Linked DNA regions of Homo sapiens. The protein of the gene in region 4 purifies or fractionates together with the protein of the main gene of each other region. This does not show direct contact. Each region holds a gene or a part of one and is shown on either strand. Other genes may lie near its edges.

Region 1 (4,596 bases), on a different chromosome or scaffold from region 4:
CATTAAAATGCAGCGACTTGTATGTTAAAATACATAGAAATTTGCTATACTTCTTTAACAAGTGCTTTATAAAAGTATAAAATTATAAAAGGTGCTATTTTCATGAATTTTGTGTTTTCCTGATACTTCAGCCAGACCAACATGCAAACGTTACAAATAGAGCAACTGAACACTGGCCATCAATTACCTTTGAATTTAAACAGTACATTCCAGCGCAGTCTGGGCCCCAAAGCAGTTTCACCCTTACCTAACTTACCTAACTCTTAATATAGCCTAAACTCACTGAAAAATAAGCTAACTTCATTTCACCTTTTGTAGCATACACGTAGACTCAGAGTATATACTGAAATATAATTTGAAAGCTGATCATTAAAAAAATCAAGAACCTCAATATTAAAATATTAACTCTGAGTATCTTAAAATTGCATAGAAAATGTAGGTCATGGTTTATTAAAGTTTTACTTAAATAATCAGATAAATAGGGCTGGCGAGGTGGCTCATGCCTATAATCCCAGCAGTTTGGGAGGCTGAGGCAGGCGGATCACCTGAGGTCAGGAGTTCGAAACCAGCCTGGCCAACATGGCGAAACCCCGTCTCTGCTAAAAATACAAAAATTAGCTGGGCGTGGTGGTGGGCACCTGTAATCCCAGCTACTCGGGAAGCTGAGGCAGGAGAATCGCTTGAACCTGGGAGGCGGAGGTTGCAGTGAGCCGAGATTGCGCCATTGCACTCCAGCCTGGGCAACAGAGTGAGACTCTGTCTCAAAGAAAATAATAATAATAATAATAATAATCAGATAAATAGAAAAAGAGGAAAGGCAGAATTTACAAACATATATTAACCAAGAAATAGTGTTATTTATTCTTTACCATACAAATTTGCATTGAAAAGTTCACAATATTTGATTTTTGAGCTTTCTGAGCTCAGGATTGGTCAGAGCTTGAAGTTTAAAATAGTTGACAGATTTAGGGAATAGCTTTCATGTTAGTTACCGCATGTTCATTAGCTTTGAGTTGCATGGGAACCATGTAAAGTAACCCACGCATTTTGCGTCTATGTAAGGGAATGATTAGAAGGATAACAACAACATAGTTCTTTCTTAACTCTCTATCAGTTCCAGATCTCTATACACTTCACCAACATCTATCATTATTCTTAGTTTATAATGATGAAACAGACTAGGTATAAAAAATGGAAAATTAGATTAGGTCGCGAAGCAAATATAAACCAAGCAAGATAAAATCCACTCATGTTGACTATCATAGTATTGAGATCCAGGAATCCATGCTGTCTGTAGTTAAAGCAGATTATCTTCACTGCCATCTATTGGTCTTTATCCTGAATTAGGAGAGAAATCCCCCGAGGTTCTGCATGGCAAATAAAGAGTTAGGAAAGCCAAAATATCAGTGGGTATCATAAGTGATTTACTCTAGATAAATCACTGAATCATAGTGACAAGCCCTTAGGAGCTCTGCCTTAGAATTTCCCAAGGGTTTCGTAGATGATCCTGCAGCAAAGAATGAATTCCAGGGTGTCAGATCTGACTTGATGGCATTTTAGGGACTTGGCCAAGGTTCCCACTTGATATTTGGGACTAAAATGCCCCACCTGAAAAGAAGCGTTCTACCTTGCAATTAAAGAAAATGTGGGCCAGGCACGGTGGCTCATGCCTGTAATCCCAGCAGTTTGGGAGGCCGAGGTGGGCAGATCACCTGAGGTCAGAAGTTTGAGACCAGCCTGGCCAACCTGGTGAAACTCCAACTCTACTAAAAATACCAAAAAAAAAAAAAAAAAAAAAAAAATTAGCCAGGTGTGGTGGTGGGTGCCTGTAGTCCCAGCTACTTGGGAGGCTGAGGCAGGAGAATTGCCTGAACTTGGGAGGAGGAGGTTGCAGTAAGCTGAGATCATGCCATTGCACTCTAGCCTGAGCAACAAGAACAAGACTCCACCTCAAAACAAAAACAAAAACAAAACAAAACAAAAAAAGACTGGGCATGGTAGCTCATGCCTGTAATCCTAGCACTCTGGGAGGCTGAAGTGGGCGGATTGCCTGAGCTCAGGAGTTCGAGACCAGCCTGGGCAACACGGTGAAACCCCGTCTCTACTAAAATACAAAAATATTAGCTGGGCGTGGCAGCGTGCGCCTGGGTGCGCCTGTGATCCCAGCTACTCTGGAGGCTGAGGCAGGAGAATCGCTTGAACCCGGGAGGCGGAGGTTGCAGTGAGCCCAGATCATGCCACTGCACTCCAGCCTGGGTGACAGAGCAAAACTCCGTCTCCAAAAAACAAAAACAAAACAAAACCAAACAAAAAACAAAAACAAAAAAAAGAAAATGTGAAAATGGATAGTTCTGAGGAAATGGGAAAAGCCAGTTGCTGAGAGAACTGCAGTAAAGGTAAGTCGGTCCCATGAAGGGATACCTACTTCCTACCTCTGCTCCTCAGCTATGTTCTCTTCATAAGCAGAAATTCTGTGACCAGGCAACTTTCTGTATGGTCAGGTTGCCTGGCCTAAGTCCTTGGCTTGACTAAAAGCCCTTAATAATCCAGCCAGTCCCCCACGGTTTCAGAGGAATTTCTAGGACTGCTAACCTTCTATTGGCTTACTAGGGATTCAGGTCCTAATCTATAACCTCAACATGTGCTTTGACCATGTGCCTCCCAGGCTCCACTACGGATATAACAGGAAGTACTTACAAAATTCCTTTATCTTTTTTTTTTCCTTTTTGCAATCAGTTTCTCAGGTTAAAAAATAAATTCCTTTATCTTTGTTTGAAAGAGAAGATCACCACCTTAAACTTCCTAAATGTTCATGAGTCAAACAGGATGATAATATTTACCCCACTGTTATCATCCCTACCTTTTATTTAATGTCATGAGTATAGGGTGTGGACCGGAAGAAGCAATACAGAGTTTCACAGTTGTGCTGGGTAATTCATAAGTTTTGTATGTGCCTGGGATATTAGGGTTGTAAATCACAATTAAAGATGAAAAATGTTAGGAGGGAAGTAAAGCAGAAAGCCCAAATCAGACAGTGAATCAGGGATTAAGTGGGAGTGGTGGAAAGGCAGGCTAAGAACATTTACAGAGATAGAAAATAGCAGAGACTCTCTCAAAACAAGAATTCATTGTTCTAGCATTCAGGAAGTGTCTATATAGGGTGTGGAGGAAAAAAAAGGAGATGTGGGACATTTCAGAGCAGACACTGCCCAGACTAGATCTTTTATCCTTCCATGCACATGCACATGTACACCTTAGTTCCATTATAAGCTTTTGGTGAAAAAAGTAAAGCATTTTATTGAAAAAGCCTCACAGTTCTGACTCTTTGTCATTTTCATCCAGGTAGTATTCATCATCTGTGGTTGTGTCTGTGTCACAATCTGAGTCCACTGGGTCATCCTCATAGATATTAAGCGGTTCACTTGGAGATAAGCCATCTTCTGGCACCTGACTACTGGGAGAATTTGAGCTTAATGACTCTGAGGGGTTGGGAGGGTTCCTCAAATCATCTTTTAGGAAGCCAGGGTTCTTAAGAAAACTTGGTTTCCATAATCTTCCTTGTGTAAGTGACCTCTTTACATTTTCTAAGAAAGCTAACTGTTGTTCTTTCCCAAAGATCCCATAGTCGATAGGTCTGTATATAGATATTGCAGACCTGGGACCTGTTTTTGTCCCGCTGCGATAAGCCCAACTTTCATTTCCATCACAGGAGGGGAGTTCAGAAAAAGATCTGAATCTTCGACTGTACCCATTGTTGACAGAGAATTCATTCCCAAGGGTCAGTCGACTCAGGGCATTGTCAATAGAAGTGCTTTCAGAAAAATGGCGCTCCCTGACTTTTGGAGGATGGCTTTTTCGTAGTAGATCGCCATGAACATTAATGCTTTTTAAACTCTTTGAACGATAGAGGTGTGGCTCAGGTTCCCACTCCAGAGATGAAGCACTCCTTTGTTGCTGCAGAAAACTGGCCAGTGGACTGCTTACTCTAGATTTCTGTGCAGGCTCCAGTGGAAAAGGAGGGCTCAGCCTCCTCTGATTGTCAGAGAATTCTGCTTCCCTGAGGCTGGTGAATGTGATGGGTGATGGGGCTCCTGATTCTCTTACTAAATTCTGAGCTGCTGTGACGTCTTTAGAATTCTCATGCTTTGATGGTGATTCTGAGACGTTTTTAAACTCATTCTGATGTCGTTGTGAAATGCTGTTAGACTTCTGGTTGCTGACGTGTGTAGAAGGTTCTCTGTTGGGTAGTACAGTAATGGGGAGAAGGTTCTCGGATTTCTTCACATGCTTTCCGTTCTCACTCAACCTGCTTTCGCCAATGGACTCTGCAGATTTTGGAGTAGGCTCAGGGAACAGTGGGTTGCACTCCACTGTGCCAAGAGATAAATGGTCAAAGCCAGATCTGCTTCCACTTTGGGGGAAGATAGTAGCTACATGTCTTCTGGGGCTTACATCTTTAGCTGGGAATTTTCTGCTGGCTTTAGACATGGCTGCCAATCTGTGTTTAACTGAAGATCTATTTTCCCCCTTTACTAGGTCATCCAAGTTGGTTTTATTTTTGTTTCCTTCAGGAAGTGAAGGTTGATCCCAAGCTGA
Region 2 (4,596 bases), on a different chromosome or scaffold from region 4:
CATTTTCAACGCATTTTACAGCTTAAGGCATAAAAATATAGGGAGTTTTCATGGTCAATAAAGCCACAGCCTCCATCACTCAATCACGAGAAGAACCTGATTTGAAGAGCCCGACAACTCCTCTGAGATTCATCTCAAAGCCTGTGGAATTAGGGACCACCCATGGCTTAGCTCAGTGACATCTTGATGGGAAGAGGGCGGCTCTGGAGCTTCTCGGGCCAGGTTCAAGTAGAGGCTCCACCCTTGTGTGCTCTGTGACCTTGGGCCTCCATCTCCTCTTCTATAAAATGGGGACAATGTCTACATTCTGGAGGGCGGTCAGGAAGATTAAACAAGATAATGGACATTAGATGTACTGCATGTAGCTGGTGTTCAATAAATGGGAGACGTTCCTATTTCTACAAGCGCAAAAAGCTCGATGGAGGCTTTGTTCATGATTGTTTATTTGACATCAGATTGTGGCTCTTATTTCCTCCCTTCAATTTCCATCTAAGCTCTCATTTTATGTAAAATTCCTGAATTCTAGAACAACAGCATGCATTACTAGAGTCTAAACTGACTCCTCAAGAGCTTCTGATGGCAACAACATTTCTCCCAAGCTCCCGGACACAGGGCTGGGCTTCCGTTGCTTGGTACTGGTGCAAAGCTCACAAAGACACACTCAGGACACTGCAGGAATGGTGGATAAAACTAAGTATTCCAATTGCTATAAAAATCAGAGATGGGGCCGGGCCTGGCGGCTCATGTCTTTAATCTCAGCACTTTGGGAGGCTGAGGTGGGCAGATCACTTGAGGCCAGGAGTTCGAGACCAGCCTGGCCAATGGTGAAACCCCGTTCTCTACTAAAAATAGAAAAAAATTAGCTGGGCTTGGTGGCGGGTGCCTGTAATCCCAGCTACTCGGGAAGCTGAGGCAGGAGAATCACTTGAACCCGGGAGGTGGAGGTTGCAGTGTGCAGAGATCACACGACTACACCCCAGCCTGTGCAACAGAGTGAGACTCTGTCTCAAAAAAAAAAAAAAAAAAAAAAAAAAATCAGAGGTGGGAGAAGTACTATCTCATCTTCCATCAGGCTCATGATCATTAGCTCTAAGTAAATCAGGCCTAGGGTATGCTACAACTCTTCTGGAGTCTTGTGCATGACACAATATTTCTGCAAATATTTTGATATGGAAACAGACACTTTAGGGAAGGTGACAGACCTCACGGATTTTGCAGAGAAGCATCTGCTTCGAGGGAGCATTTGGACCTGTAAAATGATTTCTCTGCACTTGATCTTCCACAGTCTCATACTGAAGTCATAAACCTGTGTTTCTGTCATCAATCTGCTGTTGTGAAAATTATTTTGATGTCAAACATGGGATTATAATTTTACTAGAATCCTTCTCAAGTCTTGAATATTTTAATGCTGGCTATAAAAAAAAAAAAAAAAAGTCCAGCCCCTATCGGGGTAATGGAATATTTCTCTGCCAGGTCCCTGAACACTCTGCACAAGGGGCCCGTGCTGTCTGTGATGCTCCAGTGGGTAACTCGAAGCTCGCTGGCTGCAAGCACTCCCAGGCAGGCCCGTGTCCCCACTCCTTGGTCCAAGGAGGGGCTCTGATCAGGCTGGTCTATGAACCCTCTCCCTTTCATCCAGCTAATCATGCTACTCTGTCTGCTCCAAACTGTCCTTCCAGCTGCTCTTTTAAATTGCTACCTACTCCTTTTGAAAATCTTTTGCAGCCATGGGGAATGTGTCTCAATATATTCCTGGATCGCAATTCTATTTCATTGAAATCTCCCACACAACTCTTAGGTCATGCATATCTGGGGAATTAAAACACAAGTCTGAAATCTGTCAAATCTGGGGGCAAGTTCTGGTTCTGCCAACTTACCAGAGTCATGATCCTGGCTCTGCTACTTTATTCCTGATCCTCACTTTTCATCTGGGAAATGGGAACAACTTTATCTCATGATCTCACAGAGCTGTGAAGATGCACTGTGATGGGACACGTGGAGCCTCTGGCCCAGGTCCTGCACTGTGCAGTCCCTCAGCATATCTTCGCTACTTCTGCTATTATGTGATGACTTCAACTCTTCAGAAGAGACTGAATGATAACTTACATAGGTTTACCATGTCTCATCTGATTTGTACTCTAGCAGCCCTGGTGGGGTGGGGTAGCATAGGTACTATGATCCCCACTTTACAGGTGGGGACACTGAGTCCCAGAAAGGTGATGTGACTAGCCAGGGTCACACAACTAGGGGTGGGGGAGCCCTCTCTGGTCCTCGCCCCTGCTCTGCCACAGCAGCTGCTTTTCCTATCTGATCAACCTATGGAAGATTTGGCTTGAAGAAAGGATTCTCTGCTTGGGAGAGGCTGAGACCCCTAGTCCAGGGCTACTCAGAGTGTGGTGCCCAGACCAGCGGCCAAAGCAGCATCTGGCGCTTCTTGGAAACGTATGATCTCAGGTCCTATCCCAGACCTCCCAAATCCGCAAGACCCCTGGAGGCTCCCATGCCAAGCAGAGCTCCTCTCAGCCACACTCCACTCTGCAAGGCCCTGCACGGCCTAGCCCCGCCAGCCCCGCCAGCTCCCCCAGCCCCCCCAGCCCCCCATCCCCCTGTGCCTGCCTTGCCTCAGCCCATTCCCAGGCTGCCTGTCTGTGGTGCTTCCTCTCTCTTTACCTGGTCAACATCTGTGCCTTTTCAGTCATCCTTCAGGGTTCAGCTCTCCCTGCCTCCATACCTCCACCCCAAGTCAGTTTACTGTGACACACCCACACCTTTGAGACTAACGATCTCTTTGTAATTTTGTGTTTTATGCCTGTTTCCTCTGGTAGAGGAAAAGCTCTCCAGGGGCAGGGACAGAGTCTGTCACCGTGGCATCCCAGGCCGTGGCCAGGCACACGGAAGGTGCTCAGTGAGTATACTGTTTAGGTATGGTGACATACAAGTCTAGCAGAAAGTTAGGTATGTTTAGAACAGGTTGCTAAAATCACCTTCAGCATAATTATCTTCAAAACAATAATAATTTCCTCAGAGTCTGCTCCAGGAGCTTCAAGGAGCTCCTGACAATGGTTGCAGGAAAATAAACAGTACATAAAAGGAATAAACAAATACAGGAAGAGCCAGGGTTATTGGGATTGGGAGGAAACTGAAAAGGGTCCTGCTTTGACTGAAGCAGGTGCAGAGCAGCTGAGCGGGGGCTGGTGTGGCCCTGGCACAGGCACTCACCCCTGGGTGGCTGGCAAGCTGCGACACTCCTCCTCTGCCAAACTGGGCCCGGGAACCTTCTATAGAGCTGCGGAGTGGGTGGGGCTGCGGCCATGCCGCAAACAGCCTGAAGAGAAGCTGGACCCACCTACCCTGTCTCTGGTTCAAGAAGGAATACTCACCTTGAGCACAATTTCATTGACGGTAGCAGCGTCCGATTCAAAGTAGAGGTGTTTATAGTCGTGATTGCTTAGATACGTGAGTTTAAATATTGCGTGACCTGCAGAGACAGAAAACTGTGTTGAGGGGTTCTGGTGAGTTAACTATGGCGGGGGCCTCCATATGTTCTCCCCTATCATTCCAATTCGAGCGAGAGCAAGTGGAGGCTGAGCAGCACCTAGTCTTCCCAGGAGTAGTTCGTTTTCTCATTACAGGCTGGGTATAAAATGGACAATGAAAAAATTTTAAAGACTCAACAGCCAGTTAGGTCCCATTCCACTCTGGAATGCATTCAGGGGAATGCCACGTTAGGAAGGCTTTACGGAACTGCTGCTATATGATAATTACATGCAAAAGGTGGCGTTTTTAAGGGAGAAGGCTAATTAACTCCACATTATTACTCTAAAAATAAACTAACTGTTTAAAGTCAGATAAATGAGCAACAGGAAGGAGAAGGGTCAAAAGCCACACTATTATGAGGCTGCTCCACAGCCTGGGCTCCTGCTGGGAGAGGACTCCTGCCTGGAGAGGGAGAATCCCAGTTTTAGACCCTGCTGGAAGCTGCTCCCAAAGGCCTCAGGTCATCTCAACCCTGGGAGGATGGGGGCGGGGGGGGCACCATGGAAAGTGGGCACCTCACAAAGCGACCGACTCCAGGGGGCAGAGCTTCTGAATATAAATCTGATCTAGGTCTCCATTCTCCATGCCCCGTCCTACCACCTTCAGGATGACACTTGTCATTTCTGGGACTGCTTCCTGGTCTAGCCTCATCTCACTCCGCTGCCCCGACAGGCCACAGGCTGCCAGAGTGCTGCACACTCCCACCTGCCACACCAGCCTCTACACAGGTTCTTCCCCAAGCCTGGGATGTCCTCTCTCACTGACCCGGATGGGAAAGATTTGCTGATCCTGGGTGGCTCAGCTCAGCTGGCGCCTTCTTGGGTGAGTCTTCATAACCACACTTCTAGGCGCACTTCTTGTGTGGGCCTACCACACGGTACCGTGGCCCTCCAAAGGAACCTGCTTGTCTTATCATACCTGCAGCCATGGCTACATTATCTGGGCCTGTCCTTTTATGTCCAGACAGGTCAATCGGATTCCCTCTTCTAAATGCAGACATAGATGCTAGGCTGTCTAAACTGGCACAAGGACTGAGAATAAGATGAGGGGCTTTGGGAC
Region 3 (4,596 bases), on a different chromosome or scaffold from region 4:
TAACTAAAAGAAGACAACTTAGAAACACAAAAACCTTGCAGAGGGAAAGTCAGGAGAAGGCAAAGTCAAACAAAAAACTCTAGCTGTCTCTCTCTTTCACAAAACATTAAGTTTTTCTCTAAAAAAAAAAAAATGCTTCATGCCTATAGCAACATGATTAACAATAGAATTTTTAAAATAAAAAACACATGAACTCCAGGGCAAATCTGATTAAATTCTTGAACAATGAATACTGACAGAATAAGGGAAAAATTTCATAGTCCTCACTAGGAGTCAGGCCTTCCCTGGTCACTACCACCCCTCTCTTCTCAGTATCCTGCTTATTTTCTTCAAAGCATTTACTACTACACAATTTGTACTTATTTTATTTACATTCTTTTTGCCTATTCATGAGTCCATCAACTGTAAGTTCCATAGGGCACACCATGTGGTCTTTGTTTGCATTTCTATTCTCAGACTTAGTACAGTGTCCAAGGTCTGTTTAATAAGTAGATTTAAATACCACAAATCTATAAATACATATAAATGTATATACCTATATATGTGTACAGATATAAATACACTCATATATAATGCTAAGGTAGGAAAGTAAGCCAACCAATTGCAGTAGTATTCATGAAAAAGATGGAAACAACGTTTTCTGAAAATGAGCGTGAACAGGCCTTAAGGTTTTCCTGTAATAGATCTTTTGCTCAGGCAAAAATTTTTAAATGAGGTATGTGTATATATGCATATGTATGTGTGTATGCATATTTGTATGTGTATATGTTTAAGTTCATAGGTATAGAATGTGTATGAATAGAATATGTATAGTGTATATATGTGTACACAGTCCATTCTAGTTATTTATAGATTCTGTATTTGTCAATTTACCTACTCACTATAATTTGCAACCTCAAAATCAATACTTGCAGTGCTTTTGTGGACAAGTGCAGAATGGTGAAAAAAATGTCACCGAACATACATGTGTGTTCCCAGCTGAAGTCAAACAAGAATTCTTGCTTTAGCTTTTCCAATGGCAAAACAAGTGTTCATCTCATGATTTATTTAGTACCACATTTTTCACATTTTTGTTCCTTTTGCTGGTGACTTCACTGTTTAAATAGGTCCCCAAGCATACTGCCTACCGTTTCTAAGTATGAGAAGTTGTGATGTGTCTTGCAAAAAATACATACATATATATATATGTGATAATCTTTGCTCAGGCATGTGTTGTTGGCTATGAGTTCAATGTTAATAGATCAACTGACATATTAATATGTCTTTAAACGGAAACACATATAAAGCAAGGTTATCTATTGATCAGTTGATGAAAATGTTGTGACCAGAGCCTCACAAGAACCTAACCCCTAGGAGCAAACAAAGTTTCAGTATTCACTAATTCAGTGTATACAACAACTTTACAGAATATAGCTACCACAAATAACAAGAATTGACTGTCTCTATGTGTATATATATGTTTGTATATGTGTATATATTTGTATATGTATATGTTGAATTCCATTTAGGTAAACTCCAAGCCATATATATATATATTTTAATAATCAAACTATTGAAAACCAAGGTTAAGGAAATCTTGAAGATAATCGGAGGAAAAAAGATATAATGCAGAGAAACAAAAACAAAAATTTTTCATCAGAAACTATGTAAGCTTGAAGATAGTGGAGGGATTTTTTTTTTTTTTTTTTTTTGGAGACAGAGTCTTATTCTGTTGCCGAGGCTGGAGTGCAGTGGCACTATCTCAGCTCACTGCAACCTCCACCTCCCAGGTTTAAGCTGTTCTCCTGCCTCAGCCTCCCAAGTAGCTGGGATTACAGGTGTGTACCACCACGCCTGGCTAATTTTTGTATTTTTAGTAGAGATGAGGTTTTGCCTTGTTGGCCAGGCTAGTCTCAAACTCCTGACCCCAGGTGATCCATCCACCTCGGCCTCCCAGAGTGTTGGGATTACAGGTGTGAGCCACCATGCCTGGCCAATGGAATGATATTTGTAAAGTACTACTAGAAAAAAAAATTATAAACCCAGAATTCTATATCCTTTGAAAATTATCTTTCGAAAACAAAGGTGAAATACTTTCTCAGAGAAATAAAAGCTAAGAGAATCAACCAATATTAGACAGGCACTTTAAGAACTTACAGTAAATTCTTCAGTCGATGGGAATATAATACCAGACTGAAACTTGGACCTACATAAAGAAATAAAAGCTCCAGAAATGCCAAGGGGCAGTGTAGGGGAAAGGAAACAGAGAGGGAAAGAGAAGGTAAATATATTTTTCCCAAAACACCCTATACCTTACATCAGACTTGATGAAAGACTGAATACTTTCCCCCTAAGCTCAGGAACAGGACAAGAGTATCCTCTCACTACTCTCCCATTCATTGTAGTAGAGGTCCTAGCCAATGCAACATGGCAAGAAAAATAGAAGACACACAGATTATCAATGAAAACATTAAACTGCAGTCACTTGCAGTGACATGACTGTCTACTTAAAAAAAATTTACCCAAAATTACTATTAAATAGATCTACTAAGTGAAGTTAGCTAGATTACAGGATATGATCAATAAACAAAAATTAATAGTATTTTTCCCTATTTCACATCATATATAAAAATTAACTCAAAATGGATTAAAAGCTAAAGCTCTAAAATTCTAAGAAAAAAACAAAGGTATATATCTTCTTGATATTGGAGAAAGCAATGGTTTCTTGGATATGGCACAAAAAGTACAAGCAACAACAATACAAAATAATAAATTGGACTACATCAAAATGAAAAAGTTTTGTTCTTCAAAAGACACCACCAAGAAAGTAAAAAGACAACCCACAAATTGAGAGAAAATATTTGCAAATCATGTATCAATCCAAACATATGACACAAAAAAGTCTAAAAATAAACAATTCATAAATTATGCGCTTTTCTGAATAGCATGATGAAATCTCCCACTGTCCTGTTCCATCCTGCCTTAATCATAAATCATCCCTTTGTCCAGAACATCCATGCTGTATACACCACCTGCCCTCAGTAGCCATACTGATTATCAGATCAACTGTTGTGATATCTCAGTGCTATGTTCAAGTAACCCTTATTTTACTTTATAATGCCCCCAAAGTGCAAGAGTAGTAATGCTGATGTATTGTTATAATTGTTCTCCTTTATTATTATTAGTTATTGTTGTTAATCTCTTATTATGCCTAATTTATAAACTTGATCATAGGTAAGTATGTATGAGACAAAACAGTATATACAGGGTTTGGTTTATAAACTTTATCATAAGTAAGTATGTATGAGAAAAAGCACAATATATATAGGGTTCAGTACTATCCAGGGTTTCAGGCTTCCACTGGGGTCTTGGAACATTTCCCTTCTGGATAAGGGAGGACTACTGTATACAAAGAAATCTTACGACTCAATTATAAAAAGATAAATAATACAATTTTAAAATGGGCAAAGGACCTGCATAGACATTTCTCCAAAGAAGATATACAAATGGCCAATAAGCACATGAAAAGATACTCCACACCTTTAGCCATCAGGGAAATGCAAACCAAAGCCACAATGAGAATCAATTCATACCCATTAGGATGGTTATAATCAAAAGAACAGAGAACAGCAAGCGTTGGTGAGGATTTGGACAAATTAGACTCCTCATACACTACTAATGAGAATGTTAATTTGGAAAACAGTCCAGCAGTTCCTCAAAAAGTTAAACAGAGTTACCATATGAGTCAGTAATTCCACCCCTAGAAACATACTCAAGGGAAATGAAAACACAGGTTCACACAAAACTTGCACATGAATGTGCAAAGCAGCATTATTCGTAACAGGCAAAAAGTACAAAATATCCAAATGTCCATCAATAAAATAAATGTGATACATCCTTACAGTGGAATATTATTCATCAGTAACAGAGTATTGATATATGCTACAACGCAGATGAACCATGAAAACATTATCCTAAGTGAAAGAAGTCATGCACAAAAGACCACAAATTATATGATTCAATTTATATAAAATCCCCAGAATGGGCCAGTCTACAGACACAGAAAGTAGGTCAGTGGTTGCCAAAGGATGAGGGAAATGGGGGAAATGGAATATGACTGCTAGTGGATATAGGGTTTCTTTTTGAGGTAAAAAAGTTCATTGTAATTGTGGCTGCATTAACTGTGGATATACTAAAAGCCACAGAATTGTGCATTTTAAGTCAGTACATTTTATGGTATGAGTATCTCAATAAAGCTATTATTTAAAAAAGAAAAAGACTCCAAATCTCTATCTCTAATCCTGACCTATCTCCTAAAGCCCGGATCACTATAATGCAATATATTACAGGCATCTCAGATTTTGCATGTTGAAAACTTAAAAATTCACTGACTTCACAGATGCTTACCTCTGATAACTGGAAACACTGTCATTCAATTACACCAAAAGAAACCTTGGAGTCACTCTATTCTCTTACTCTCCTTTATACTGATCACTATAAAGGCTATCAGGTTTACCTCTTTGCTGCTCTTAAACATGACTTCTCCATGCCCCAGCTTTATTTTAGGCCCTTAGAATTTCCCACCAAAATTACTGCAGAAATCTCCTAAATGATCTT
Region 4 (4,593 bases):
CCAGCACTTTGGGAGGCCGAGGCGGGCAGATCACGGGGTCAGGAGATCGAGACCATCCTGACTAACACGGTGAAACCCTGTCTCTACTAAAAATACAAAAAATTAGCCAGGCTTGGTGGCGGGCGCCTGTAGTCCCAGCTACTCGGCAGGCTGAGGCAGGAGAATGGCATGAATCCAGGAGGCGGAGCTGGCAGTGAGCCGAGATCGTGCCACCACACTCCAGCCTGGGCAACAGAGCGAGACTCTGTCAAACAGAGAGAGAGAGAGAGAAAGAAAAAGAAATCAATCAATCAATCAATCCGGTTTAGATGACAACATGAATCAGGTTTGTTGTTGTTGTTGTTGTTTCCCCCGCAGACAGAGTCTCGCTCTGTCGCCCAGGCTGGAGTGCAGTGACGGCGATTTCGGCTCACTGCAACCTCCGCCTCCCGGGTTCAAGTGATTCTCCTGCCCAGGCCTCCTGAATAGCTGGGACTACAGGTGCACGTCACCATGCCTGGCTAATTTTTTGTGTTTTTAGTAGAGACGGGGTTTCACTGTGTTAGCCAGGATGGTCTCGATCTCCTGACCTCGTGATCCACCCGCCTTGGCCTCCCAAAGTGCTGGGATTACAGGCGTGAGCCACCGCGCCCGGCCTGTATCAGGTCTTTATGCCAAAATGAATCATGCAGTCTAGGCTCAGTAGGATAGTAAGGCTGTTAAATGTCTGATAAATTGGGAAGGAAAAAATATGGAGTCAGTGAAACAGTGGGCTCCCTAAAGCTGAAGGGCAGGTGTAATTGGAGTGTGCTTAAGTGTATTGGAAGGCTAAGAGCTAAGGTCATAGTGCAATGGGAGTTGATTTCAGATGTGTAGCCAATCTGAAGATGAGATCCAGGGTACAGCCACAGAAGTAGAGGAACAAGTTTAAACAGTCTGACTTGTGATACAGCAGTGAACAGCTGAACCTAATAGGGAAGACATTCAATAAACAGGTGAGCTGTATGTTTTTCCTCAATGTTTTTGTAACCCACACTTCTACTTTTCATATACCTGAAAATCTCACATTTGCCCCTCCATTTACAATTTCAAAATTAAGTATCATGATTGAAATTAATGAAAGCAGTAGTAATTTTAGAAGGAAAAAATTTATTCAGATGATGTGATAGCCATGTCACTGTTAAGCCTGAACTTTTCTTTCCTGGGTGGTGTGAAAGGTGCAAGAAAACACAAGCTGCTTTTAATAACACTCTTGCACTGCTTTCTCCCCAAAGCTAGATATATCAAAACATTAAAAAATAAAAAAGCTTTTTAAGGTGTAAGGAGCAAATGGAATAGTGGATAAAGCCTTTTCATCTGTTTAGTCATTTTACACCCAAGTTTCTCTGGAGTATTTGCCTGGAAGTTTCTAATCAAAACCATTAGACTTTGAGTTTCACAAACTCCTCTTGAAGCTCTTCCAGTGAGGCCTGCACATCGGTATGAAACACATTCTTTCCAAAAGCTACCACTGGTAGATTTTAAGAACAAGCTCAGGAGCACATCACTCAAAATAATTCCAAGTATTTCACTTTTTCCCTTCAAATAACACTCATGAATCTGGTCCTTGAAAGACTAGCCAAGAAAATTAGACATTTTTAGCATTAGTTTGCTCATACATACATTTGCTATATTTTTATGGTTGTATTTTTGGCAAGTTTTGTTTGATGTATTTCATAATGAACGGCGAAATTGGTGTTTGCCCATTGACATTTCAGTGTCAATGTATTTTAAGCTTCAGTGTGTTAAAACTCTGTTGAAAATTTTAACTTTTGAAATGTTCAAGTATAGATTATTTTTCATTGTTCTTCCAACCTTGGGGTTGTTCTGTCCACAAGTTCAGCAGAATCCGTTTTTCTTTGGCAACCAAGAAACTTCAATATGTAACAGAAAACATGGAATGGCATTTAGATCTTCAAAAAGCAGGGCAAACTGGAATGGAATGTACTGTTTCTCACAGTGGTCTATGCTGACAGCAAGGCTGAAGATTTCCAGTAGGTTATGGGTAATCAGTGAAAGTTCATGCTTGGTGGTGACAGCTGCAGTACATCTTGAATACCAGTTTTCTTCAATCTTTGCCAAAAACCCAAATTTAACACAGTTTGCTGTAGTGCCATTAAGATATACTCCTATACAATTTCCTCCAACTCGGTTCATTTGATACAGCTGCAAAAATACTGTCTTTGGTGGTCAAGTAGAAGGCTCACGAAAACAGCACACCCACAGTTTTGAAAGCCTTATTCTGAATGTAAGCAAAGTACAGTTTTCTTCATCAGTAGATTCATCTCAACCAACAGCAATAAAAGATGAGCCGATTTTTTTTTTTTTTTGAGATGGAGTCTTGCTCTATTGCCCAGGCTGGAGTGCAGTGGCTCAGTCTCGGCTTACTGCAAGCTCCGCCTCCCAGGTTCATGTCATTCTCCTGCCTCAGCCTCTTGCGAGCTGATGTTTTTTAAGATCTGAAGTTTGATATATACAGTCATTAATTCAGAGTTAAGACTGCAGAAGTAGATGAAGAAATTCTGGAATTCCTTAATTTATTTGTGGCAGCACTCAGAATGCAAGGTTTCACAAGTGTCTCCATTTTTTTCTCCTTTGCAATTAAAAGGGCTGTTTAATATTAAGCTTTCACGGCTTGGAAGATTCCTGTGAATATTTCAATACTGTCCAGTCTTAAAGCTGCAGAGAATCGGGCTTTGCAGAACACTCCACTGTTTTTAATGGCATGAATTTAACAGTGTTTGGCATGGTGTCACTGCCCAACACTTTCAGATAACTCAACTGAAGAAGTTGACCCTATCTTCTGCAAAATAACATGAGTATATACTTGAGAAAAGCCTCAACATTTTTTTTTGGCTGCCATTTTTAGCTACCTCAAAGGAGATAACAGAAAAACAAGGAGTACTGATGATGGAAGCATCTGGTCCCTCTTGCAGAGTGATGAATGATTTTATTGGTGGCAGCTGGGTGGCAGGACAATCCAGGCATCCAGTTATGCCTGATCCCCAATAAGTGAAATCTTTGTTCATTTTCTTTTTATACACCCGTCTGCTTCCTAAAACCTGACACCATTTAATGGTGCCCTTGGTCAAATCTAAATGATCTTACTTTCATAATTCTTTGATTCTAGCTTGCAGAGTCAAGACGAACTCTAACTCATGGGATGGACAAACTGGAAGATGTAAAATAAGTAAGGCTTTCTGGGCCAAAAAGCCTCTTCTTACAGAAAATCAAATTTTAAAAGAACATTGACCTCAAAACAATAAAACTGTCCTGGTTATGCAATAGAAATAGCTATATAAATGGAATCATATCCTTAATGAACACCTCCTGTGGCTACCCAACTTTTCACACATCTTACTGATTATAGGCCTTGCTGTGAATGCTTTCTTGCTCTATCTGAAGTATTCCCACCAGAGTTGTTTCCAACTTTATTTCCTATATTATGAAAAATGAAGTTTTTTTAACATTGTAACAAAGTATATGAAAGATAATGTATACTGTATTAAATAAACCATTATACAAAAATAGTTCCTTGTACTGTTAACTATTATTATGACTTTGGTCAGTAAAATTCTAAATCATGCGACTATAATTTACATGTTTACCAATGGAAGGAAGTGACAATGAACTGCCTAAAGAATGAAAGAGACACCCAGGCATGGTGGCTCACATCTGTAATCCCAGCACTTTGGGAGGCCGAGGCGGGGGGATCAGGAGGTCAAGAGATTGAGACCATCCTGGCCAACATGGTGAAACCCCGTCTACACTAAAAATGCAAAAATTAGCTGGGCATGGTGGTGCGCACCTGTATTCCCAGCTACTTGGGAGGCTGAGGCAGGAAAATCGCTTGAACTCGGGAGGCGTAGGTTGCAGTGAGCCGAGATCGCACCACTGCACTCTAGCCTGATGACAGAGCGAGACTCCAGCTCAAATAAATAAGTAAATAAATAAATAAATAAAAATAAAAAAAGATTTGTGTCTTAACTGTGCACTTAACAATATTTACTATAAAATGGGGGAAGGGGATGATGATAAAAGTTAGCTGAGGAAGGCTGGGCACAGTGGCTCATGCCTGTAATCCCAGCACTTTGGGAGGCCCAGGTGGTGGATCTCCTGAGGTCAGGAGTTCAAGACCAGCCTGGCCAACATGGTGAAACCCCATCTCTACTAAAAATGCAAAATTAGCTGGGCATGGTGGCATGTGCCTGTAATCGCAACTACTAGGGGTGCTGAGGCAGGAGGATCGCTTGAACCCGGGAAACGGAGGTTGCAGTGAGCCGAGATCATGCCATTGCACTTCTGCCTGGGCAACAGAGCAAGATACCGTCTCAAAAAAAAAAGTTAGAAGAGAAATGGAAGGTTCTCTCTTTTCCTCAGCTTCAGTATACTAAAACCCAGAAGCATAGGACATAAGTTTTTTCCATGGGATACTTTAGTTATCACCTTGGGTGAAAACATGGTACTAGGATTTGTCCTTCAAGTCAGGTTAATGTAACAGAGGTAGCAGTGACTTATGGTTAGATTTGTGCCTTAACTGTGCACTTCCCAATATTTGCTATAAAATGGGGGCAG
Region 5 (4,596 bases), on a different chromosome or scaffold from region 4:
GAGAAATACATATTTTATTTAAAGTAAACGAAGCACCCAATAATCAAACTAGTTATAAATCTTTACTATTAAGAGATATCAAATAAAATCCACAGTTAACAAGTTTTTAGGAGTTGAGAAATAATTATAGGCCAGGCATGGTGGCTCGTGCCTGTAATCACAGCATTTTGGGAGGCTGAGGCAGGAGGACGCAAGAGCCCAGCAGTTCGAGACCAGCATGGGCAACATAGGGAGATCCTGTATCTACAAAAAATAAAAAAAATAAAAAAAATTAGCTGGGCATGGTGGTGCATGCCTATGGTTCCAGCTACTAGGGAGGCTGTGGCAGGAAGATCACTTGAGCCTGGGAGGTGGAGGCTACAGTGAGCCAAGATTGCACCACTGTACTCCAGCCTGGGTGACACAGCAAGAATCTGTCTCGGAAAAAAAAAAAAATTATATTTACTTCATAAATTGGATATCATAACTAATATAATAAATGCTGGCTTCTGTATTAGAAGAAACAGCTAACCATTGAATTTTACTATAGCTTAAACATGTATGAGATGCCAGGAATGAGAAAAGAACATGTGTCAAAGCTTCTGTTCAGGAATGCTCTGCTCAAATAGATATGTGGCAGCTTTGCAACCTTGTCTCTGGCTCCACATCCACATACATCCCAAAGTGCTACTATTCCATAAGAAATATGAAAAGTTTCAGAGCCATTCCGTACAGGATCAAGTGCAGCTGGCTGACACTGATAGAGTCTATAGTTTGTGCTGAAATGCTGGCCCAAACATTTCATCTACCAACTCATATAATTTTCTTTCTTTTTTTCTTTTTTTACAAAGTCATTTATCTCTACCCTTGAATCAGCAGCTATTTTGATGACAACTATCAGATTGGTGGTCTTCATCCAACTTATCCGAAAGAAATAAGGAAGGCAAGTAGTTAGGGCACCTTGCAACTCTTCATTCGTTTTCTCTCGCCTGGGGGCAGGAGCAGGGAGGACCCTATTTTCAGTTGACTGTGATGCGGGAACTTCTTCTTCATCTGTTAAGTCCTCCATATCTCCAAAGAGAGTGGCCAGATTTTCCTTTTCGTCTCTTGTCTCTCCTGTTTCTCCATCATCAGCCTCTTCTGTATAAGATTCACCGTCGCCGTCGGCATCAAAGAGCTCATCAAATGCGTCGGGCTCGCCATTTTCCCGCGTCAAGAAGTTATTTTCTTCTGAATTACAATCCAAGGCTGACTCATTTTCTTCCAGCAGTGCGGTCAGCAGAGACAGATTGTCTTCCTCCTCTAGGGGAAAAGAAGAGAAAGGACAGAGAATAAGCACGGCTAATTCCAAACATTCAACTTTAGGCAATTTAAATGACCCCATGGGGGTAAGAGAAACTACCTAATGGGTACAATGCTCATTACCTGGGTGATGGGTTCAACCATACTCCAAACCTCAGCATCACACTATATATACATCTCTGTAACAAGCCTGAATCTAAAATGAAAGCTGAAACTAAAAAAACAAACAAACAAACAAACAAAAAAAACAAAAACCTACAGATGCACCATTTTGCCTGGTCTTTGTTCTCCTTGTCTCCATCTTTCTTGTCCCCAGGTGCTTCTTAGGGGACACTGGGCTAAGAAGGAGCCAATACTGCTTAGTGAGTAGAGTGGGCCAGCCACGGGGCCAAATGTCCTCAAGCATTCTACTCCAATCAATGAGACAGCTTCCCGCACACCGACTTCCATGAAATTCAACCAACAAGGGAATAATTTTAAAACACCAAACATAGATTTAGGCTTTAGATGTATATAATTCCTGACCTTCAAATTATTTGAGATTTAAAAAAAAAAAGATACAAACTATATAAAAAATACTAAGATCCCATCACCCAGAATTAGCCATCATTAACATTTTGTTGTTTGCTTCTTGCCTTTAACATTAAATAACACCTTCCAGATGAAGTCTGTCATGCCAAATCTTATCCCAACTCCTGACCACTGCCCCCACTTCCCATTGTAATCACTTTCATAATTTTGAGGCATCATTCCAGTCCATTCTTATGCTTTTACATAAATATATAGGCAGTCATAGTCAATCTATATTAGATGGTTTTAAAAATATTTACATAAATATTCCACACTGCATTACTCTGCATTCCAGGTTCATTCAACATTGCTTGTAAGATTAACCCAAATCAAAACATATAGTTCTAGCCAGGCGTGGTGGCTCACGCCTGTAATCCCAGCACTTGGGGAGGCCAAGGCAGGAGGATCACCTGACATCAGGAGCTCAAGACCAGCCTGGCCAAGAAAGTGAAACCCCGTCTCTACTAATAATACAAAAATTAGCTGGGCGTGGTGGCCCGTGCCTGTAATCCCAGCTATTCAGGAGGCTGAGGCAGAAGAATTGATGGAACCTGGGAGGTGGAGGTTGCAGTGAGCCGAGATCGCACCACTGCACTCCAGCCTGGGTGACAGGGCGAGACTCCATCTCAAAAACAAACAAAAAACCCCATATAGTTCTAGTTTCTTTCTTTTCGTTGCTATATTGTATCCTATAATAAGACTGTATCACACCTCATTAATCCATTTTCCAATAAAGGACAATATGGGCTATTTCTAATTTTTCCCCACTACTAAATACGCTGTAATCGTGTATCCGTCTTCTCGCACATGTGTTTCTTGGGAATATCTATCAGAAATGGAATTGCTGGATTGCTGGGTATCCACGTTTTCCAATTTTGCTAGATGCTGCCAAATTGTTCTCAAAGTGGATGCACTCTTGAAATGGCATAGTTCGTCTGGGGTAATACCTGAGGTTCGTTGTCTCATGCAAAGGAAATCAAGGATGCTGACACACAAGGAGTGAGGTTAAGTGCAGAGATTTAATAGGCAAAAGAAAGAGAAGAGCTCTCGGCAGCAGAGAGGTCCCAGAGAAATGGGTTGCCGCGTCCATGGCAAAATGCATGGGGTTTCATAGACGAGCTTGAGGACGCAATGTCTGATTTACACAGGACATAAAAGATTGGCTGGACTAGGTATGCCATTTGCATAGGGTGGAAAACCTGGCTGCCCCACCCTAATCTTTTATTATGCAGGTGGTTCTCTACCTGGCCAGCGCCATATTGTCTGTTTCTTTACTGTACACGTGGTTGACACAGAAAAAGGGCCGCCATGTTGAACACGCCTGGCCCCCAGGGAGCCTTTTCCTATTGGCACAGCTGCAGGTATTCATCCGTGCAAATTACTAGCTTGCTTTTCTATGTCCGCTTGATTTTTCTGGCTGGCCTTGTTAGAAATTACTTGGGGGCTGCTTTTTGCTAAAAGGGAAATTCTGCTGAGGACTCTGTTGCCCTTACTATCTCCCTAAATAATTGCTATCATCTGTATCACTCTCACTAGAGCTGTACACAAGGGCCACTTCTCCCCACCACCTCATCAATATCTGATGTGTCACTTAAATATTTTTTTGTCAATCTGATGGACGATTTAAAAAGGCATCTCACTGTTTTGATTTGCATTTCTTGGATTACTGGTGAGGTTAAGAATTGTTTGTTTATTTGCCAATCGGATTTCTTCTTTCTTGATTTATCTATTTTCTTTGCTCTTTTTTCCCCCCTATTTGGGCACTATTTGTTTATAAAATCAGAGGTATTCAATGGAAAAATATTAAGGATATCTGACCTACTCTCCTTGTCTGAAATTCAGGGGCTAGAGTATGAGAGGGTGAGGGGCTTGTTCAGGATCACATGGAGAAACAGATCAGTTCAGGAGCTGGGTTAATAAGGAATCTCTAGATCAGCAAACCAATATCCTTTCCACCACTCTACACTCCCTTACCAGAAGGAAAAAGCCAGTAGCCAAACTTCAGGCCTAGAATCTGATGATGGGGCCTAATGCTCAGTCAGAGGTTGTATAAGGATTAGCTTGAGTTGCTTAGTCCACAAAGACTCCAAGGCTGCACAGTGCAAGAGAGAAGAGGCCAGGCAGCCCCCTGTGCTCTGAGAATGTCACATGCCTGCAAGGAAGCAAAGAGGCCTCCACCATCTCTTGTTCCCGTCTGCCAAAGAGGGCACACCCCGGGAAGAGGCTCTGGCTCACACCACTGGGGGCCACAGGTGGAAAATGCTGCCTGGGGACCCCATACTATTCACTTTGAACCCTTCACAAGAGAACGAGGGCTAATCCCATGGTGCCTCACAACCCCGTTTACCTCAGTCACCACCAAAAATCATGTCTTCTCTGTATTACGCTGACTCAATCTCCCAGCCTCTTTGTTCTCAAACCCCTGGGATGTGAAATCTACTATCAGCACGTTTCTCGGATCCCCAGTGGCTCTTACAACAGAAATCTGGCTACCCCTGGAAGCCTCTTGAATGGAAAGCATTTAATTGTTCACACCTCACATGGCAATGTCTAGAATAGTGTTCGGCACGTATTAGGCATGCAACAAATACTTGTTGATCAACTTCAGGTTCCTGATGTCTTCTTTATCACTGTCACTTTGGAATGATTCAGTCTTTTTCCAGATCACAGCTCTCTGAAGTTCAAGACACCAGACGCTGGCATCAAGAACCCCTCATGGCACTGTCATGTGCTGATCATCATATG
Region 6 (3,500 bases), on a different chromosome or scaffold from region 4:
TAATGGACTTTGATCTGCAAATTTCTTGCTCTGTAAATTGCTGGATAGCTGGATGAACCTTCTGAATCTGACCCAAACGCAAAAATCCTATTTTAAACTTGGCTAACTTCAAAAGAATATTGTCAACAGCAGAGTGTGTATAGCTGGTCAACAAAACGCTAAAACCACAGGCGTAGAGAATTCTTACCTAATAATGGGTAAGAGAAAAAAGAAAAAACAGCCTTACTTTTAATTCCAGATAATTTTTAACATGTTTATAAACTTAACAAGAACCATATCTAAGAGCTGAGCCAAGTAAAAATTATGAAGCCAAAACATTTTACAAAAATTACATGACATTATTATACGTTATTAATAATATGTCAATAATACATCATAGGCCAGGCATGGTGGCTCACACTTGTAATCCCAGCACTTTGGGAGGCTGAGGCAAGTGGATCACTTGAACCCAGAAATTCAAGACTTGCCTGGGCAACAAAGTGAGATGCCATCTCTTTTTAAAAAATTCTTTTTTTAATTAGCCAAATGAGGTGGTGCGCCCCTGTGGTCCCAGCTACTTGGGAGGCTTAGGAACGAGGACTGTTTCAGCCCAGGAGATTGAGACTGCATGAACTGTGATCATGCCACTGCATTCCAACCTGGTCTCAAATACCAATCCCCCTGACTTGGACTCCCAAAGTGCTAGGATTACAGGCATGATCCACCTCGCCTGGCTCACGTTAACAAGACTCCATCTCAAAAAAAAAAAAGAAAAAGAAAAGAAAAAAAGAAATTTACTGACATGAAAAAAAAAATCCAAGAAAAATCTCTAACATCTTTTTTTTTTAGGATGGAGTTTTGCTCTTGTTGTCCAGATTGGAATGCAATGGCGTGATCTCAGCTCACTACAACCTCTGCCTCCTGGGTTCAAGTGATTCTCCTGCCTCAGCCTCCCGAGTAAAGCTAGGATTATAGGCGCATGCCACTACGCCCGGCTAATTTTTGTATTTTTAGTAGAGAGGGGGTTTCACCATGTTGGCCAGGCTGGTCTTGAACTCCTGACCTCAAGTGATCCGCCCGCCTTGGCCTCCTAAAGTGCTGGGATTACAGGCGTAAGCCACAACGCCCGGCCTCTAACATCATCTTTAAAGGGAAAGGAAAACATATAGTGATAAATATCACATACCACTAACGGAAAGCGATCTTAGAAAATTCTAAATGCGAGAAATCTACATGATTACAACTGTTTGTGCTTCAGCTTTACTATTTCTCATCATTCTAAAAAGTTCATTTGAAACAAAGACACTGAATTAAAATTCAGCCCTTTTGATATTCAATATTACATCCTCTGAACTGAGGAGAAGCTGATACAAATATTTTGTCTCTAAGCAGAAGAATAATAACCTTACGAGAGTACATATCGTAGTTGTTTTTCCTGTCCCAGGCATACCCACGATGAGTGTGTAGTCTTTTGAAAGAAGTACCTTTTTCATCGCTTGCCTCTGAGGCTTATTCAAACCTACATTTAAATTCAAAAATAACAGGAAAAAGAGTGTTGAATTTCAAAGGAAAAGTTAATTATTTCATAAGAAAAGCAGTCTCTATCCAAGTCTATTCTTCAATACAAAACCATTTCCAAAGAGTCTTGGTCTAAACATTGTAGTTGCAAGTCTAATCAAGATATTAGACTACAGTATAAATCAAATAGAAACAAGAAAAATTAATCAAAGCAGACATGGTGATTTTAGCATACCCTTTAGAATGCAGGCAACTGTATCCTTTGCATCATGTGGAAGAACAGAACTAAGGTAGGATATAAACTGAGGTTCACGAAAGTCAATAATTAAATCTCGAAGTTTTTTGCTGAAAAGTGAAAAAGCACTTTTAGTAATATTCCTTAGAAAAGTGGAGTGAAATTCAAATTTGCTCATTGTTACAAACCTGACAAACGTGTTTTCCATCAATTTGGAAAGATTTCCTAATGGGGTATCTATATCACAATTTTTTTCTTCTTGGTCTAATCTGAACAAAGTTGATTCTGGAAGGACCGACAAGTTTCTAAAACAACAAAACAAATATACATGAATGCTCGCCATTTCGCATAGTCTGTATAAGAAATATGCTGCTATCTGCTAAAAGAATGAATGGGCCAGAATAGCTATTAAAATAGCTACCAGCCCTCAGTCACACTTGCCAATCAAGGACAGCATGAGGCCCTGGATTGGTGGGAAAAGGCAGAGGGAAGGGGAAGGTCCAAGGCACCAAGGTCAAAGCAATTAATAATTGGGAACCTGCAACATTTGCTGAAAATTCATTTACCCTTGCAGTCGAACACGGGTTCACCATCCCCAGAGGGATCCTGAATGCATGGCTCTTCCTTCCTCTAACCTGGAGTGCAGGCTTCTTTTCTGCCACCTTCTCCCTGTCTTCTATCTGTCCCTTAAGCTCTGGTATTCCCTAGAGTCCCTTCCCTGGTTCATTGTACTACTCTTTCTCATTGTTTGCTCCAGGGTCCCAGGCCCTCACGTGCCTCCAAATTCCAAATTCCATCTTTAGGCCTGACCTCACACTCCTCTCCTACCTGGTTCCTCACCCAAGCTTTGGGTTTGGATATTTAGTAGGCAGTGAGATCTCTCCACTTAGCTAAACCCAGGCTGTGAAAGCACAGTACTTTCAAAGCAGAACTCCTCCTCATCCCTGCTGAACCTGATGCTCCTTCTCTGGTCCTGATCACAGTTAATGGCATTGGCATTTGCATTTGCACTGCCATCTTGATCCTTCCCTCTCCCTCATCCTCTCCCCAACCCACACACCCAATCAGTATCCAAATGCCAGCCACTTTTACTTTCTAAATACTTCTCAAAGTCATTCCATTCTCTCTGCCAACACTACCCTGCCTCAATTTCCTCTAGCCTGGGTCACTGCAACAGCTTCCAGGTTTGCTTTTAGTTTTTCTTCCATTAATGAACTCAATTCTCTACAATGTAGCCAGAGGAAAATGCAAATCCAATGATTACCCACTCTTCTGTTTAAAACCTTTCAATACAATTCTATTTATTCAATAGAATAAATAAAATCTAAACTTTTTTTCTTTTGAGAGAGGGCCTTGTTCTGTTGCCTAGGCTAGAGTGCAGTGGCATGATCATGGCTCACTGTAGCCTTGAACTCCTGAGCTCAAGCTGTTATCTCACCGCAGCCCCCTGAGTAGGTGGGACTACACGTGTACACCACCACACCTGGCTAATTTTTTAATTTTTTGGAGAGATGGGGGTCTCACTATGTGGCCCAGGATGGAAAACTTTTTAAAATGATACGTAAGACATTCTATGACCTGATCTAATTACTCTCTTCCTTATATTTTATATTCTAGAAATAACGTAATTACCTGCATTATCCTGAATGCTCCATGTCACACTACATCACACGTTTGTGCAACAGGTTTGCCCAGTATAGTATTCTCTTCTCACACTGTTTCACCAGACTAATTTATTAATCCACAGGATGAAGATTCAGAATTAGCT
Region 7 (4,596 bases), on a different chromosome or scaffold from region 4:
TACCAGATCTACTGTCCATTTTAGTGCTTGTCTGATACACATAGTATAACAAATGAGCAAGTGCTTGTTTCAATCTGCTTAACAACCTTTAACCAGCAGATAGAATCACCAGATCTCAACCATATTTCCTTTCTTTCTTTTTAGATGAAGTCTCACTCTGTTGTCCATGCTGGAGTGCAGTGGCACAATCTTAGCTCACTGCAACTTCTGCGCCACCATGCCCAGGATCCCAGCACTTTGGGAGGCCGAGGCAGGTGGATCACTTGAGGTCAGGAGTTTGAGACCAGTCTGGCTAACATGGTGAAACCCTATCTCTACTAAAAATACGAACATTAGCCGGGCCTGGTGGCGCATGCTTGTAATCGTAGCTACTTGGGAGGCTGAGGCATAGGATCGCTTGAACCCAGGAAGCGGAGGTTGCAGTGAGCTGACCTCGCGCCACTGTACTCCAGCCTGGGTGACAGAGCGAGACTCCGTCTCGAAAGAAAAACAAAATAGGGTGGGGCCTGGAGATAGAGAGTAGGTGGTTATTGGAGACTGCGAAGGGTACTGGGGGGTGGGAAGGAGGTAGGAATGGTTAATGGGTATAAAAAAATAGAATGAATTAATAAGGCCTGGTATTTGATAGCACAACAGGGTAATTATAGTCAATAATAATTTAATTGTTCATTTAAAAATAACTACTAGTATGACTGGATTGTTTGTAACACAAAGGATAAATGCTTGAGGGGGATGGCTAACCTGTTTTGCATGATATGATTATTTCATATTGCATGCCTGTACCAAAACATCTCATGTACCCCAGAAATATATGCACCTACTACCTACTATGTAGCCACAAAAATTAAAAATTGTAAAATAAAAAAAAAAGTAGAGTGGGCCCGAGTAGCAAAGGCATTGGGTCCCCAAGAAATCGGAGTTCTTCATCCTTTTTCAAAGTTGTGTTTAAAACCATTCTTGAACGCTTTAATCCTAAAACTGTTCAGATCGCTGGGCGTGGTGGCTCACGCCTGTAATCCCAGCACTTTGGGAGGCCGAGGCGGGCGGATCACGAGGTCAGGAGTTCAAGACCAGGCCGGCCAAGATGGTGAAACCCTGTCTCTACTAAAAATACAAAAATTAGCCAGGTATGGTGGCAGGCACCTGTAATCCCAGCTACTCGGGAGGCTGAGGCAGGGAATTGCTTGAACCCGGGAGGCGGAGGTTGCAGTGAGCAGAGATTGAGCCACTGCACTCCACCCCGGGCGACAGAGTGAGACTCCGATCTTAAAAAAAAAAGTGTTCAGATCAAGAAGAACAAGAGAACAAGTTGAGTTTGTGCCTCTAGAGTCTCTTTGGTAGTAGGAAGGACCACAAACTTCCTACAAAGTTGTATTTGGTTTGTGGCTCCTGGCTTTTTTTACTGATGGCAGCATAGGACTTAGACTTAGCAGGACCTTCAGGACAAACTGCTGAAAGTCTTTGTGATTTCTCTTCTCATATCCTAGCCATGGTGACATAGCTGCTCAAAGTCTGTCATTTCTAACCTGCTTCCTCTCCAACATGAAAGGATGTTTTCCTCTCAGGTGCCCCATCTTCTGCAGTGGCTAGTGTTTTAAAAGAACACTTTGTCTTCTTGTAATTACATTGATTGCCTTACAAAACAGAAGGATTCACAAGGTTGATTTGGGCAGGCGAGAGATGGAGATTTCTGGGGGCTGTTGGTAAATATCCTGGTGGGTCTTGTTGAGAGGATTTGATGAGATATATTGGCTGGTGATACAATGATACTGCCTGGTTTTAGGGGGCTGTTCATGTGCTAAGTTGGCTCAGGCGGCAGTTCCAAGATTTGAAAACTTCCCATGGCCCTGCCCTCCGGTCCCTTTTGAAAGGAATTTCACCAGAAGAAGGAAGAGGGGGTAGTAGAGGGCAGCCGCCCTTAGGGAGGGAGTGTCCACTGTCCACCTCACATCTGAGTCGGCCGCATTTAAATATGGAGTTTACCGTCTTGGCATCTGAGGCTCTGGGTCTGACTAGGCCTTGGGATCCCGCCTCGTCTGCCTCTGAGGTCAGTCTGAATGCAAGCCCCCATCTGCTTTTCTGTTGGGAAGCATTTGTTTTCCTCTTGCCTAGGAACTTTTTCTGTTTTTAAAAGCCTTGTGACTAGCAGAGTTTGGGTTGTCATTTAAGCGAAAGGAAAACAGGTATGAGTGAGCCGCATGCATGCAAAGCATTTGAGGCAACAGCAGTGATGCCAAATGCCTGAGATCCTTGGAATGACAGGGTCTGTCCCCAGGGCTCCTAGCTTCTGACCAGTGCTGGGTTCGTTCACCACCTAAAAAGACTTGGCTTTTCCTCTCAGTGCCAAATAGGTTGGTGCCTTGTAGCCCCCAGGCAACCCTTTGGAATGTTCCTTGCTCCTTTGTCATCTCACCCGCTTCATCCGTCCCACCCTCTGTGTTTCTGTAATAACAGCTTTATGGCTGGTCGTGGTGGTTCACACCTGTAATCCTAGCACTTCAGGAGGCTGAGGCCCACAGATCGCTTGCACTCAGGAGTTCAAGACCAGCCTGGGCAACATGGCAAAACCCTGTCTCCACAAAAAATACGAAAAATTAGCTGGGCGTGATGGCACGTACCTGTAGTCCCAGCTACTTTAGGGGCTGAGGCGGGAAGATTGCTTAAGCCCATGAGGTCGAGGCTGCAGTGAACTGAGATTGTGCCACTGCACTCCAGCCTGGGTGACAAAGTGAGAGCCTGACTCAAAAATAAAAATAAACAGCTTTATCATCTGTATAAAATTCATATGCCATATAGTCCACCCATTTAAAATGCACAATTCGATGGTTTTTAGTATATTCACAGAGTTGTGCAGCCATCACCACAATCAATTTTAGAACATGTTCACCACCCCACAAAGAATCCCCATACTCACTGACATTCTTCATTCCCCCGGCCTCACAACTACCCATCTGTCTATATAGAGACCACGAGACTTCTGCCGGGACAGTCTTCAGCCTTTGGTGCAGACACGCGTTGCAATTGCCTAGAAGTCTGTGGGTGGGTCTTCATGCATTAGAGGTTTAGAAACCAATATTCTGCATACTCTGTCCTTCAGGTCTAAGACGCGCTTTTACCCTGAAGCCTTGCCTTTTCACCTCCTGTACATTCCCACTCCACAGGGCCTGCAAAGCGCTCAGAACCTGAATGTAATGTACACAGCGGTCTGCAGTTATATACTGCACATGTTCATTTTAGCTTCCCAGACAGTAATGGCCGCTAATTGTTGAGCACTTATGTGCCAACCCTCATAGTTCTGGGGGTTGCCTGGGCTTATTGGAGAAGTTCTGCTGCTCCATTTGGGGTCACCTGGAGTCCCTCATGCTGGTACAGTCTGCTGGTCTGCTGGGAGCTCAGTTGGGCTCGAAATGTCCAAGATGGTCTCTCATTGTCCAGGTACCTAATCACAGAGAGTCTGTCCTGGACTTTCTAACAGCGTGGCTGCTGTGCTTTGAATAAGGAAGCAGAAGTTGCCAGTTCTCTTAAGGCCTGCACATAGAAGTCCCAGAATGTCATTTTTGCTGTGTTCAGTGGTCAAAGCAAGTCCCAAGGCCAGCCTAGATTCAAGGGGAGAGGAAATAGACTCCACCTGTTGATGTGAGGGCAGCATGCACCTACTGGGAAATGAGAAATTGTTAGTGGCCCTTTTGGAGAATATCTACTGTAATAGGCAAGTACAGTCGTTCCTTGGTATCCATGGGGGATTTGTTCCAGCACCTCTCAAGAACACCAAAAATCAAGGATGCCCAAGTCCCTGATATAAAATGGTATAGTATTTGCGTGTAACCTATGCACATCCTCCCTTATACTTTTTTTTTTTTTTTTTTTTTGAGACAGAGTCTCACTTTGTCACCCAGGCTGGAGTACAGTGGCACGATCTCAGCTCACTGCAGCCTTGACCTCCCAGGTTCAAGCAATCCTCCCACCTCAACCCCTCCAAGGAGCTGGGACTATAGGCATATACCTCTATGTCTGGCTCATTTTTGTTTTTGTTTTGGTTTTTTTGAGACAGAGTCTTGCTCTGTCACCCAGGCTGGAGTGCAGTGGTGCGATCTCTGCTCTCTGCAACCTCGCTTCCTGGGTTCAAGTGATTCTCCTGCCTCATCCTCCCAAGTAGCTGGGACTACAGGCATGCACTAGCACGCTCGGCTAATTTTTTGTATTTTTAGTAGAGATCGGGTTTCACCACGTTGGCCAGGCTGGTCTTGAACTCCTGACCTCAAGTGATCTGCCCACCTCAGCCTCCCAAAGTGCTGGGATTACAGGCGTGAACCACCGTGCCCCTCCCTCCCTTACACTTTAAATCATCTCTGGGTTACTGATAATAAATGTAAATGCTATGCAAATAGTTGCTATACTGTGTCGTTGTTTTGGGAATAATGACCAAAAAAAAAAAAAAAGTCTGTGCAACCATCCACTTTATTTTATCTGAATATCTGAATCTTTTCTTTTTTTTTAAGATGGAGTCTCACCCTCTTGCCCAGGCTGGAGTGCAGTGGTGCAATCTCGGCTCACTGCAACCACTGCCTCCTGGGTTCAAGTGATTCTCCTGCCTTA

The links.
Region 1: the proteins of TRIM52 (region 4) and EXPH5 purify together in Homo sapiens (affinity purification with mass spectrometry; one large-scale study listed by BioGRID and IntAct). This does not show direct contact.
Region 2: the proteins of TRIM52 (region 4) and MAPKAP1 purify together in Homo sapiens (affinity purification with mass spectrometry; one large-scale study listed by BioGRID and IntAct). This does not show direct contact.
Region 3: the proteins of TRIM52 (region 4) and WDR11 purify together in Homo sapiens (affinity purification with mass spectrometry; one large-scale study listed by BioGRID and IntAct). This does not show direct contact.
Region 5: the proteins of TRIM52 (region 4) and MCM10 purify together in Homo sapiens (affinity purification with mass spectrometry; one large-scale study listed by BioGRID and IntAct). This does not show direct contact.
Region 6: the proteins of TRIM52 (region 4) and DNA2 purify together in Homo sapiens (affinity purification with mass spectrometry; one large-scale study listed by BioGRID and IntAct). This does not show direct contact.
Region 7: the proteins of TRIM52 (region 4) and MAP7D2 purify together in Homo sapiens (affinity purification with mass spectrometry; one large-scale study listed by BioGRID and IntAct). This does not show direct contact.

Annotation. Positions count from the first base shown.
Region 1 is NC_000011.10:108,506,228-108,510,823, forward strand, and holds part of EXPH5 (exophilin-5), read right to left. Parts: coding exon 3,310-4,596; 3' UTR 1-3,309. UniProt on the Homo sapiens protein: May act as Rab effector protein and play a role in vesicle trafficking.
Region 2 is NC_000009.12:125,441,121-125,445,716, forward strand, and holds part of MAPKAP1 (target of rapamycin complex 2 subunit MAPKAP1), read right to left. Parts: intron 3,479-4,596; coding exon 3,381-3,478; intron 1-3,380. UniProt on the Homo sapiens protein: Component of the mechanistic target of rapamycin complex 2 (mTORC2), which transduces signals from growth factors to pathways involved in proliferation, cytoskeletal organization, lipogenesis and anabolic output.
Region 3 is NC_000010.11:120,853,671-120,858,266, reverse strand, and holds part of WDR11 (WD repeat-containing protein 11), read right to left. Parts: intron 2,516-4,596; exon of another isoform or gene 2,137-2,515; intron 1-2,136. UniProt on the Homo sapiens protein: Involved in the Hedgehog (Hh) signaling pathway, is essential for normal ciliogenesis.
Region 4 is NC_000005.10:181,254,039-181,258,631, forward strand, and holds the end of TRIM52 (E3 ubiquitin-protein ligase TRIM52), read right to left. Parts: intron 3,549-4,593; exon of another isoform or gene 3,457-3,548; coding exon of another isoform or gene 3,376-3,456; exon of another isoform or gene 3,191-3,375; coding exon of another isoform or gene 3,170-3,190; exon of another isoform or gene 3,017-3,169; coding exon of another isoform or gene 3,011-3,016; exon of another isoform or gene 2,822-3,010; coding exon 2,771-2,821; 3' UTR 2,478-2,770; coding exon of another isoform or gene 2,433-2,477; 3' UTR 1,109-2,432; downstream 1-1,108.
Region 5 is NC_000010.11:13,167,607-13,172,202, reverse strand, and holds part of MCM10 (protein MCM10 homolog), read right to left. Parts: intron 1,282-4,596; coding exon 940-1,281; intron 1-939. UniProt on the Homo sapiens protein: Acts as a replication initiation factor that brings together the MCM2-7 helicase and the DNA polymerase alpha/primase complex in order to initiate DNA replication. Additionally, plays a role in preventing DNA damage during replication.
Region 6 is NC_000010.11:68,430,474-68,433,973, forward strand, and holds part of DNA2 (DNA replication ATP-dependent helicase/nuclease DNA2), read right to left. Parts: intron 2,038-3,500; coding exon 1,921-2,037; intron 1,843-1,920; coding exon 1,733-1,842; intron 1,499-1,732; coding exon 1,389-1,498; exon of another isoform or gene 1,384-1,388; intron 188-1,383; coding exon 1-187. UniProt on the Homo sapiens protein: Key enzyme involved in DNA replication and DNA repair in nucleus and mitochondrion.
Region 7 is NC_000023.11:20,109,936-20,114,531, reverse strand, and holds part of MAP7D2 (MAP7 domain-containing protein 2), read left to right. Parts: intron 1-4,596. UniProt on the Homo sapiens protein: Microtubule-stabilizing protein that plays a role in the control of cell motility and neurite outgrowth via direct binding to the microtubule. Acts as a critical cofactor for kinesin transport.